Linked DNA regions of Homo sapiens. The protein of the gene in region 3 interacts with the protein of the main gene of each other region in a pairwise test. Each region holds a gene or a part of one and is shown on either strand. Other genes may lie near its edges. The genes, in order: FJX1, C11orf71 and DKKL1.

What was found.
Region 1: the proteins of DKKL1 (region 3) and FJX1 interact in a two-hybrid assay, tested with the Homo sapiens proteins (one large-scale study listed by BioGRID and IntAct).
Region 2: the proteins of DKKL1 (region 3) and C11orf71 interact in a two-hybrid assay, tested with the Homo sapiens proteins (one large-scale study listed by BioGRID and IntAct).

The regions. Positions count from the first base shown.
Region 1 is NC_000011.10:35,616,931-35,621,259, reverse strand, and holds FJX1 (four-jointed box protein 1), read right to left. Parts: upstream 2,801-4,329; 5' UTR 2,624-2,800; coding exon 1,310-2,623; 3' UTR 395-1,309; downstream 1-394. UniProt on the Homo sapiens protein: Acts as an inhibitor of dendrite extension and branching.
Region 2 is NC_000011.10:114,397,885-114,401,906, reverse strand, and holds C11orf71 (uncharacterized protein C11orf71), read left to right. Parts: upstream 1-1,395; 5' UTR 1,396-1,575; coding exon 1,576-1,947; 3' UTR 1,948-3,375; downstream 3,376-4,022. Other genes in the region: RBM7 (RNA-binding protein 7), read right to left, coding at 47-209, 1,140-1,235.
Region 3 is NC_000019.10:49,370,309-49,373,955, reverse strand, and holds part of DKKL1 (dickkopf-like protein 1 isoform 1 precursor), read right to left. Parts: exon of another isoform or gene 2,813-3,647; intron 1-2,812. UniProt on the Homo sapiens protein: Involved in fertilization by facilitating sperm penetration of the zona pellucida. May promote spermatocyte apoptosis, thereby limiting sperm production. In adults, may reduce testosterone synthesis in Leydig cells.

The DNA.
Region 1 (4,329 bases), on a different chromosome or scaffold from region 3:
AAGTTTAAAAAGGGGGTGTTTGTCATATTTTAGTCCCCACATCTGATTCTATCATATTTGCCAAATGATTAATATAGGAATATACTACAGTGAAATCCTTTCACATCGAAGTTTTATTTGCCAGGAAATAGAACACTTTCCTCCCATCTCTCTCCCCATCTTCCCCCACATTTTAGGCTAAACTCAAATTTCCAGCACCAAGGTTCATCTGAGTGAGGACAGGGAGTCTGCTCTTATCTTTGTTCAATTCTGTAAGTTCCGTAGTCACAACTGGAATGGATATGCATCCTTTGTTTTAAAAACACATCCACAAGAAAGAAAACCTAAATCTTATTCTGAAAGCAGATGGGGCATCAGAAACATCAAACAAGTTAAAACCACAGGAATTAAATTATAAATTTTAAACTCCCTTTTATTGAAATATAAGTTTGTTTAGTATATTTACACCACACTTTATGCACATATATACAGAGAAGGTAAATTCTGTAAAATAAAATTTTTTCTTAATAAAAAATGAAAATCAAAACAAAATAAAGTGCATAAAACTGATTTTTTTTTTTCCTTCTGGTGAACATCATCGTTGTCAAAATTTTGGTCGGTTGCGAGAGGGAGGAAGAAATTCATTATTTGACTTAGTGCATACAGCTGACCCTGAATTTGTAGCCTTCAGGCCAAAATGACAAGAGGTCAGGAATGAGTCAGGCAAATTGTCAAGGTCTGCAGGGCTCCCCAGAGTCTGGAGGTCCTGCTCTCTTTGTCCTATCGCGAGCCGTCCCCCTGCTTGGAACAGTGATCTCACCATCGCGGCGCTGGAACAAAGGGAGAACACAGGAAGGGGGCTCCACCAGCCAATGTCACAGCCCTGCTCCGGGGCCACCAGCGCTCTGTTTGGTAGAAAATTGCAGAATTAGCTCAACGGCTCAAACGCAAGTTTTCCTTTTTCGGAAAGGGAATGAGGGGGGGCCCAAGAATGGGGTGCATCTCCCACAGGGACGGCCACTCGGGGGCCAAACCCCAGTAGCCAGTTTCTTCGGATCCAATCCCCGTGCTGGCACAGTAAAGAATCCTTTTATAAGCTGGGTGGAGAGAATGTTACACTTCTCGCCTCGGTGAGTTCGTCCTCCCAGAACTTTGAAAGGAAACAGCGTGGGATTGAAAGAAAGGGGCAGGTGGGTGAAAAGCTGAAGTTTTTAGACACCTTTGCGGGTGGGCGTTGGCCGGCTGGTCCCTGACAGTGGCAGAGGCGACCGCCCTTCCCCCCATCATCCATACCCCAGCCCCAGATCTCTCTCTTTTCCTCCCGGTGACACTAAGTCCCAGACCGGCGGCCGTACTTGGCCTTACAGTGCAAAATGTGCTTGGCGAGGAAGTCGAGGCGGCGCTGTAGCAGCTGAGCGTGGGGGTCTGCAAGGGCGGCCAGCTCGGGGAAGCGAGGCTCGTGGCGCCGGTAGAGGCGCAGCAGCCGGGCCGCGGCGTCCTGTCCGCGGTGCAGCTCCAGGACGCGCCGCGCGGTCCGCTCGCGGAACACGCACACTGACTGCAACAGCGGCTCGTTATACTTGTCCCACATGCCTGCTACCCGGTAGCCGTGCACCAAGCCCGCCTCATTGTCCAGAAAGACCAGCGCCCCGCCCGGACCGCGGTGCAGGTTGCTGGTGGCACGCTGCATGACGCGCGGGTCCCACTGCAGGCTGAAGAGGTTGCTTACGAGCCGGTCGAAGTTGGCCGTCAGGTAGTCGAAAAGGATTAAGTCGGTCCATTGTACTAGGTCCACCAGCTCCGCCTGGCTGAGGTTGGCCAGCTCACCCCCGGCATCCCGGAGGGGGCGCAGACGGCCGTCCTCCGAGCGCCAGGGCGCGGGCACCACCACGTCCGTGAGGTTGGGCAGCCAGCGTGTCAGGCTCACCACGCTGCCCTCGGTCCAGTGCGCAGCGCGCAGCTCCTCCTGCACCTGCGCCCACTGCGCGCCCCGAGCCTCCACCCGAGCCAGTGCCAGCGGCGGCACGTGGCGCTGGAGGCCCAGCAGGCGCGCCAGATAGTAAGACAGGGCCTCGCCCTGAATCTGCTCCGGGTTGATGCCGTAGCGCACGCAGGCGCGGGTGCCGTCGGCAAAACGGGCCAGTCGGTTGGAGCTGCGCCCGCAACCCCCGCGCTCCAGGGCCACCATCCGGGCGCCGCGAGCCGCCTCCAGCCACGCCGCCGCCTGGGCCTCCGAAAAGCCCGGGGGCACCTGCTCCTCCAGGCCGCGGCTCCAGAAGACGCCCCCGTGCACCGCGGCGCTCTCCTCCGGCCGGGGCTGCCTGGCTGACACGTGCCACCTGGGCTCGCTCCGGGACTGCCGGGGCGGGCCGTCCGCGCCGGCCGCCAGGGTGAGCAGCGCCCGGAAAGTTTTCAGGGAGCCGCCGCGGGCGTCCCACGCCAGGGGCGGGGGCAGAGGGAAGCGAGGCGCGGGCGCGGGGCCGCCGCTCCGGGCCGGGCGCCGTGGGAGTCGGTCTTCGGGCGGCCGGGAGGCGGGCAGCTCGGTCCGCGGCGGCAGGAGCCCTCCCCACAGCGCCAGCAGCGAGCCCAGCGCCAGCAGCCAGAGCCCCGCGGTGGCGGCGGCGCCCCGCATCCTCCTGCCCATGCTCCCGCGGCTGTGCCGGTGCGCCGCCGCCGCTTCAAGCCGAGCCCAGGCACCCGGGTCCCGGCGGCGAGGCGGGCCCGGCAGTTTGTGGGCTCCGGGGCTTCGGGCGCTTCGGCCCCATCGCGGCCGCGGGGCGCTGCGGGGCTCTGTCCGGCGCTCCGCCCGGCGCTGGGAACTCGAGTCCCCGCCGCTTCCCAGCTGCTTTTGTATTTCGCTGTGAGACCCTCCGGTGGGCGCGATTCACAGGCGCCCGGACCACGTGGGAGCCAGGGGGATCCCCCTCCCCCTCCTCCGCCTCCGCTCCCCGCCCCCCGCTCCCCCGCCCCCTTCCTCTCCTCTTCCACTTAAAGCGGCGATGGCTCCTTCCGAGAGGGAGAGGCGGCCCCACACTCGGTCCGGGACTTGGGGGCCTGGAGGAAGCCGGACTGGCTGCGCCCGCGCCGGGGCGTAGGAGGGGGTGGCGCAGAGCCGGAGTCTGGGGCCTGGCGGGAGGGACGCGCCCTGGGCCCTCGCGGGGGTGTCTTGGTCGCCGGGTCCCTTTGCCTAGGCAGCGCGGGTCTCCTGCAAACTTCAGACAGATTTCCACCTCTTTCCGAGCTCCGCCAGGCTAGGATCAGGCAGGGTCCCTTTGCTTTCTCAGTTTCTGTCTGGGTGATTCACGCTGCTTTATGTAAATCTCTGGGAATGTCTCCGAGCCACAGAGGATGTGATTCCAGCGGAAAGAGGAACCCGCTGTAGCCAACAACTTTGAACCGACACTCCCTTTTCCGAGCTCGCACATCAGCACCAATCAGTATTGGCCGCTCTGCCTTTCCCAACGGACTCCCAGGGAATGAAGCCTCGCTGTGCACGTGCCCCTTGAACACCTAGGCCATCTCCCATTCATTCATGCATCCATTCAACACAGCGACTGCCCCTCAGTTCTGGTTCTGCTTACCAGAAGCAAAATCCACAGATCCGGGTCCCAGTGCTGCTGAAATTTACATTCCAGTGGGACTCTCAGGTTGCTAAGAGAGATTATAGCCATCCAACCTCGTGTTGGGGAGAGGGGAGTCAGGGACGACTTTTCGAAAGAAATGATACCGTTTTGTCCATGAGGAAACTGAGGCACAGAGAAGGGATGGGTGTTGCTCAGGATTGCACAATTAGCAAGGGGCGAAGCTAAAAGTCAAACTCAGGTCTCCTGGCCGCATGCACTTGATTTTCCCTCCATTAAGAAAGATCAGTATTTTTTTTTTAATCAAGTCAGCATTCTCAAGTTTGAAATTCACTGTCATTTGACCACTTTGTTCCCCAAATGTGATTTTTCAATTAAAAGGATTTTTCAAATGGAAAGGAAAAAAACCTCAATCCCATACTGCATTTGATTTACTGCTTTTACGATTTAAGGGAAAAAGAAATGGTGGTGGTGGTGGGGGAGGGAGGTGGTGAAGGAGCAAAGAAAACAAAATGAACAACCTCTTCACCCCAACACATCTTCCAGCCACCTCTGGGTTACATTTACCAGGAAAACTTGGATGCCAGTCGGCCCTCCCTTACCTCTCTGTATCAGAATGAGTCCCAGATCCACACTGAGATTCCCAGGGTAGACACAAGATCAGGGGCATGGTGGAATCCACCTCTCAAAGGCCAGAGTTTGAAATCTGTTTCCTTACATGGTGTGTATCTTTTCTCTCCTTTCATCTTCCCATCAGGTGCACATGGGG
Region 2 (4,022 bases), on a different chromosome or scaffold from region 3:
AAAAACAGCAGGAAACAATGCCCCCCGAACCTCATTGGGCAGTTACCTGATCTAAATTGAATTTTGATAGGCCTTCCATAAAGTTTGATTCCATTAAGTAGATTCATTGCATAAGGAACAGACACTTCATGTTTGAAATTCACAAACGCAAACTGCTTTGGTTTACCATCCTTATCTTTTGGAATTTTCACCTTTATTACTGGCCCAGCCTACAAACAAAAAGGTGTTTAGAATTTAAATAAAGCAACTAAGGGAAAATACTCAAATTTTACAAATAAGATATGACAAAGTTTAAAAACAACAGAAACGTAATCAGAAACTTCTTTTGAAAATGATGCACGGATTTCCATTTTGGCTACAGTAAACATCCTAGTTATGACTGAACATTAGATTTATTTGGGGAAGGGGGCCCATAAGGAACTGGAAACACAATCACTTTTGCAATTCACAGCACTGTATGGCTTAACATAGTGACCAATCGCCATTATTTTGCCACTCCATGAAAATGAACATTTATCAAGAACAAGAGAATGATTTTCTTTAACTAAAAACGGACTTTTGTATTGATTAATCAAACAATACCAGTTATTAGGGGATAGGGATGGGGGGAATAGGATACTCAGAATTTTTCACACTTTTTAATACAGCAACACTAAAATGCTGTTTTTCTACGGAGTACTTAACCATTTTATTTTACATATTTTAATAATGCTGCAATTTGATAAGCAAACTTTAGGGGAAAACAGACACAAATAAATTAAAATATTAAGTTCCCAGTCAGATAAACCAAAGACAAATTATCCTAAGGGGAAGATGACAACAGGAAGGATAAGAAAAAGCACTGCTCAACGAAGACCCTACACACACACTGTGTTCCCAAGGACCCCTGGATCTCTACCACGGGAAACCTGATCGAGGATCCCTCCACCACCTTTAGTCGTCACTTTCGGCCTAAACGAACCAAGATCTTCCAGGAAAGCGACACCCAGCGAGCGTTTCGCAACCCAGACCCGCCTTTCACCCCCAAACAGCCACCCGTCGGGTCCCCTGACGGCTACGAAAAGAAAACGGGGTGGCCGCTGGCCAGGCCCTAGGCGAGACGGAAAACGAAAGGCAAAGGGCCGAACCCAGCCGCTTACCTGGTGGAAAAGCTCGAAAAGGAGCTCCTCGGTCACTTTCGTTTCAAGGTTGCCCACAAAGAGAGTGCGATCCGCTTCCGCCGCCGCCGCCCCCATCTCAGCGTCGCCCCCTCCCTAACCTGGCCAAAAGGTCGTGGCCGACGCACCCACTGCGCATTCACGGAAGCCCCACGTCCTCACGCTCCCTGGCGTCACAAACGAAAACGCCCGTTGCGCTTGCTCTCAGCGGGCGACGACGTGCGCGGACGGTCTGCGCATGCTCGCCAGGATACCCCTCGTTAAAGGCAAGGCGGCTTCTGGCTCTTCCGCAGGCTCAGTTATGGGTTCCTGTGTGCTTAGTCATCGGGTCCGACACAGGCTGGACTGATCTGGGGAGCCGCGAAGGGCCTGCCTTCACAAAGGGACGTAACGCAAGTACTGCGGGCAGTGTTTGAATATGGCCCTGAACAATGTGTCCCTGTCCTCCGGTGATCAGAGGAGCAGGGTGGCCTACCGCTCTTCCCATGGCGACCTCAGACCGCGGGCGTCAGCGTTGGCGATGGTCTCCGGAGACGGCTTCCTCGTTTCCAGGCCTGAAGCGATTCATCTAGGACCTCGGCAGGCGGTGCGACCAAGCGTTCGGGCCGAGAGCCGTCGAGTGGATGGTGGCGGCCGGAGCCCAAGGGAACCAGATGGCCGGGGCCGGAGCCGCCAAGCCAGATTCTCACCTTACCCAATCCCTGCCGTTGAACCCGATCTCCTAAGAAGTGTGCTGCAACAGCGTTTGATTGCATTAGGAGGTGTTATCGCAGCTCGAATTTCAGTTTAAACGAACACCTTTCCTCTGGCCCTCACTTAGCTTGTGAACAGGCCTTTTTAAAATCCTTTCTTGGTGTAGCAGCAATCGTGTTGTTTTATTTTTAGATGGATGTATTTTCATTTAATACGTGGGAGTTATATGAATATGTCCTAGCACTAAGGGAAGTGTAACAGTTGATTGATTTAGGTGGTTTTATGCAGCCAGAACGATTGGATCAGGAAAGGTGTGGAAGGGATATTCTTAGGTCGTCACAAAGCTGAGCTGATGGGAGCACCCTCCCCAGAGGTCAACAATCCATTCGTTAACTCAGACACTTAACCTTTACCTTTACTTCTGTTGGCGAAAAAGAAGTGCTCCTTTTTATTACACTGATTTATCCTTCCATCTTTTCCTTGGCATTTACCATCTTCCATCTCCCCCTTCACTTTTTTCAGATATGTCTACAAACAGACTCCAATCTCAGTCGCACTAAAAATAAGAACAAAACCTAAACCTTACAGTTCTTTCAAATTATTAAATCAATTTATTATTCCTTTCTTTGGCAAAGGTTCCAAATTTTTACTTTATATTTGTAATTTTACTATTTGCATTCAGTCCCAGCGCATTAATCTGAATCTGCTGTCCTAAAATACACTGGTGAAAACATTACTTGTACAATCTCCTATCAGAAAACTGTTCATCTACTCACTGTAGTGCCCTCCTTGAAATGTGTGTTTGTTCATTCAACTAACAATATTTGGGGATCCCTGTAGTAAACACTGTATGAATTTTACACAGTCTGGCCATCAAGAAAGATCACGGAGTATATTCTAGATGGGGAGGCTACTAAGTGAATAGGAATCACCACGCTGGGCTGTTTATTAGGTACAGTAATAAACATAAGTACTGGTTGCAGTGACTTTTTTTTTTTTTTTTTCATCATAATACTGCACTATCCTGGTTCTTCTCTTACCTGGCTGATCACTCCTTATTTGCTGTTATTTTTGTTCTCTTAACCATACATTTCCCAATGTTTAAAGGGTGGTATTTTGAGAAAGTTAATGGGTTTTGTAAGTGCCAGCTCTTTATATAAGCAGGTAGACTAGCTTTTTCCCAGCAGACGCTTGTCTGTTTAGACTTCCTTAAAATAATTATCTTCAAATAAAGCAAAATCTCCATACACCACATAGTATTGAATTGTTATAACTACGTGTTAAGAAGAATGTTGAGTAAACAAGATAGCTTCCATAAGAGGGTGATTAATATAGTGAGAATTCTAGAAACCAGATCATAGGAAGAATGATTGAAAGAATAGTAATAGCTACCTTTTATTGAGTGCTATGTGCAAGTCAGTGTGCTAGGACTTCTATTGTTTATAGAGATATTTATTGAGAACTTACTCTGTACCTGCTACTGCCTGCGGTAAGCACTTAGAATAAAGTGGTGAACATGATAAAAGTATGTGTTCCTAAGGAACTTTATATGTTATTTGATTCTCACAGCAGCCCATAAGAGGGGTACTCTACTTTCATTTTGTTACTGAAAAACAGCGTGAAGGAGATAAACTTTCCAAGGTCATATAGCTAGTAAATGATAGAGCCCTGCAGCCTTTCAAATGAGGTTCCTCATCTGAATGCAAAAAAAATGACTTGAGTAACTATTTTCTCAATTTTCCCAAGGATAATATATAACTAATTTTTTTTCAGATAACTAAAAAGAAGTTAGTTTGTAATATACAATGGATGGCTTAATCTGGGCATTACAAAAACCCGTGGTTGAGAAAGGAATTCCAAACTATAAACAGAGTGTTAGACTGGGGAAGAAGAATAAAATTAAAGCTGAAGATAAAGAAGCCTTTCTTAAAACTTAGAGATGCCTAGTAGTGGAAAATACCACCTCAAAAGGTAATGAATTAGCTGCCAGAAAGTTCAGAGAGGCTGAATCTTGTGAAGGATTTTGTCAAAGGAATCCTCATAGTGCGAAATATGACTAGATGACTTCTTCATTTTTTCCCATTTAGTATATAATCCTATGCTTTAAAAAATAAACTCGGTTAAAGTTGAAATGGGGAGTTGGGGGATGAGGAGAGAAAAATTAGGTATGAC
Region 3 (3,647 bases):
GGAGAAAGTTTGAATATGGACTGAGTGTCTGTTTGGTCCTTGCAATTCAAAGGGTGGGCTGCTGTTGTTAGGTATGCAAATTAATAGGTCCCACCCCACTCAGACCTGCTGAATCAGTCTGCCTTTTAGTAAGATGAGGTCTGAGAAGCCGCGCAGGAGATTGTTATGTGTTAAATTGTTTCCTCCTGGCTGGACGCGGTGGCTCATGTGTGTAATCCAGCACTTTGCGAGGCTGAGGTGGGCAGATCACTTGAGGTCAGGAGTTTGAGACCATCCTGGACAGCATGACAAAATCCTGTCTCTACTAAAAATATGAAAATTAGCTGGGCGTGCTGGCGCGCTCATGTAATCCCAGCTACTTGGGAGGCTAAGGCAGGAGAATCACTTGAACCTGGGAGGCAGAGGCTGCAGTGAGTCAAGATTGTGCCATTGCACTCTAGCCTGGGCAACAGAGCAAGACCCAGGCTTAAAAAACAAACGAACAAACAACCATATTGTTTCCTCCCCAAATTCATATTTTGAAATTCTAACCTGTAATACCTCAGAATGTGGCCTTATTTGGAACTAGGGTCATTGAAGATATAATTGGTGAAGATGAGGTCATTAGGTTGGGCCCTAATCCAACATGACTGTGTTCTTTTTTTTTTTTTTTTGAGATGGAGTCTCACTCTGTAGCCCAGGCTGGAGTGCAGTGGCACAATCTCGGCTCACTGCAGCCTCTGCCTCCTGGGTTCAAGCGATTCTCCCACCACAGCCTCCAGAGTAGCTGGGATTACAGGGGCATGGCACCATGCCAGCTAATTTTTGCATTTTTAGTAGAGACGGGGTTTCACCATGTTGGCCAGGTTGGTCTCAACCTCCTGACCTCAGGTGATCCACCTGCCTTGGCCTCCCAAAGTGCTGGGATTACAGGCGTGAGCCACCATGCCCAGCCTATTTATTTATTTATTTTTTGAGATGGAGTTTCGCTCTTGTTGCCCAGGCTGTAGTGCAATGGTGCTATCTTCGCTCACCGCGACCTCCACCTTCTGGGTTCAAACGATTTTCCTGCTTCAGCCTCCTGAGTAGCTGGGATTACAGACATGTGCCACCATGCCCGGCTAATTTTGTATTTTTAGTAGAGACGGGGTTTCTCCATGTTGGTCAGGGTGGTCTCGAACTCCTGACCTCAGGTGATCTGCCCGCCTCGGCCTCCCAAAGTGCTGGGATTATAGGTGTAAGCCACCACTCCTGGCCATACTTTGTATTTTTTTTTTTTTTTTGAGACGGAGTCTCGCTCTGTCGCCCAGGCTGGAGTGCAGTGGCACGATCTCGGCTCACTGCAAGCTCCACCTCCCGGGTTCACGCCATTCTCCTGCCTCAGCCTTCTGAGTAGCTGGGACTACAGGCGCCTGCCACCATGCCTGGCTAATTTTTTTGTATTTTTACTAGAGACGGGATTTCACCGCATTAGCCAGGATGGTCTTGATATCCTGATCTCATGATCTGCCTGCCTCGGTCTCCCAAAGTGCTGGGATTACAGGTGTGAGCCACTGTGCCTGGCCCCATATTTTGTATTTTTAGTAGACGGGGTTTCGCTACGTTAGCCAGGCTGGTCTCGAACTCCTGACCTCATGATCCGCCCGTCTCTGCCTCCCAAAGTGCTGGGACTACGGGTATGAGCCACTGTGCCTGGCAGGAGGCAACTTCTCTCTAGTGGATAGAGCCCAGGGATGTTATCAAATATCCTACAGTGCACAGGGCAGCTCCCACAATAAAGATTATCCAGCCCCACATGCCAATGATGCCAACCTTAAGAAATTTTGGTTTATGGAAAAGAGACTATAGGGATATTTATTATACTATTTTTTTTTACCATAAAGACACAGGCACATGCATGTTTATTATGGCACTATTCACAATAGCAAAGAATTGGAACCAACCCAATTGTCCATCAGTGATAGACTAGATAAAGAAAACATGGCACATATACACCATGGAATACTATTCGGCCACAGAAAAGGATGAGTTAATGTCCTTTGCAGGGACATGGATGAAGCTGGAAACCATCATTCTCAGCAAACCAACACAAGAGTAGAAAACAAAATACTGCATGTTATCACTCAAGTGGGAGCTGAACAATGAGAACACATGGACACAGGAAGGGAAACATCACACACCAGGACCTGTCGGTGGGGGGTGGGGGGTCAGGGGAGGGATAGCATCAGGAGAAACACCCAATGCAGGTGACGGGCTGATGGGTACAGCAAACCACCATGGTACATGCACCTATGCAACAAAACTGCATGTCTGCACATGTACCCCAGAACCCAAAGTATAATTTAAAAAAACATAAAAATACTATGTCTTAATATAACTTACTGTACCATGGATTTGTTAAAAACTAAGGTAAGTCATTAAGAAAATGATACAAAGCATAAAAGATCATTTATCAAAATTACAAAAACTCTAAAACCAGTGGACAAAGATCCAAAAAAAACTAGTAAAACAATTGAAAAATTATTTGAGTAATAAAATGTAACTATGATGACGCAATGACAGCTTGCATCTTAAAACAGGTTAAAGAAAGAATATTTTTTAAAAAATTAAGAGAATGTAAAAGTCCAGAGAGAGTAGCAAAATCCCCAAAACTCTCACGGTCCAGATGGTTGCTGGGCCAGGGTGAGGTCTTGTGACCCGGCCCTTCCAGGTGTTCAAAAAATCTGTAGGGACTTCTAGCATAAAAAACAAAGGTCACAACAGGTCAGGTCAGGCTCTTCAGCATCCTCATCCTCCTTGAACTCACTGGGTTACATTTCTTCTGCCTTTTCAGGCTTTGTCTCTATTGTTTTTTCTGCAGGTGCTGGGAGAGTACTTGTTGGCATATGCTGATGGTCATCTGCATGATTGGACTCTTCCATATCTGCTCCAGAAGCTTGAGTGTCTCCACTACAGGAAGAGTCTTTGTCATTACTGGTTTTAGAAAAGCTGTCCTCAGAGCCACCATTTTTCTTGATGCCTTTCACGGTGACAACGGCCAGCACTTGCCCTGAGGACATCTCTTCAGGAAGCTCTGCTACAAGAATGGCGAAGCAATCTTTTTTCTTGGCATCTCATTTTGCCCTGTGAAGAGATAGGGCTGCTTCTGGGGACTTTTCACTGATCACCATCCCCGCCAGGTCATCCTTGAAATCATTTACCTGGACTCCCTAGGGTGCCTTCACATTACATGGGGCCTCCTTTTCCTTGATGTTGTTGGCAAATTCTTTCACTGGATTATCTATGGGAACTTTTTCCTTGGCACATTTGTCGGCATTCAGATCCAGTGGAGCATCCTCATGTGAGCTTTCGTTGGTGAGGTCTTCCACCAGGGTATCCTCCATGGGAACTTTTTCCTTGGCTCATTTGTCAGCCTTTAAATTTAGCAAAACATCCCCATCTGAGCTTTTGTTGGCAAGGTCTTCCACCAGGGTATCCTCCGTGGGAACTTTTCCTTGGTGAATTCATCAGCCTTCAATCCAGTAGAGCGTCCTCATCTGAGCTTTCATTGGCAAGGTCTTTCACCAGGGTATCCTCTGTGGGAACTTTTTCTTTCATGCGTTTGTCAACCTTCAAGTCCAGTGAGGCATCCTTATCTGAGCTTTCGTTTCCAAGGTCTTCCACCAGGG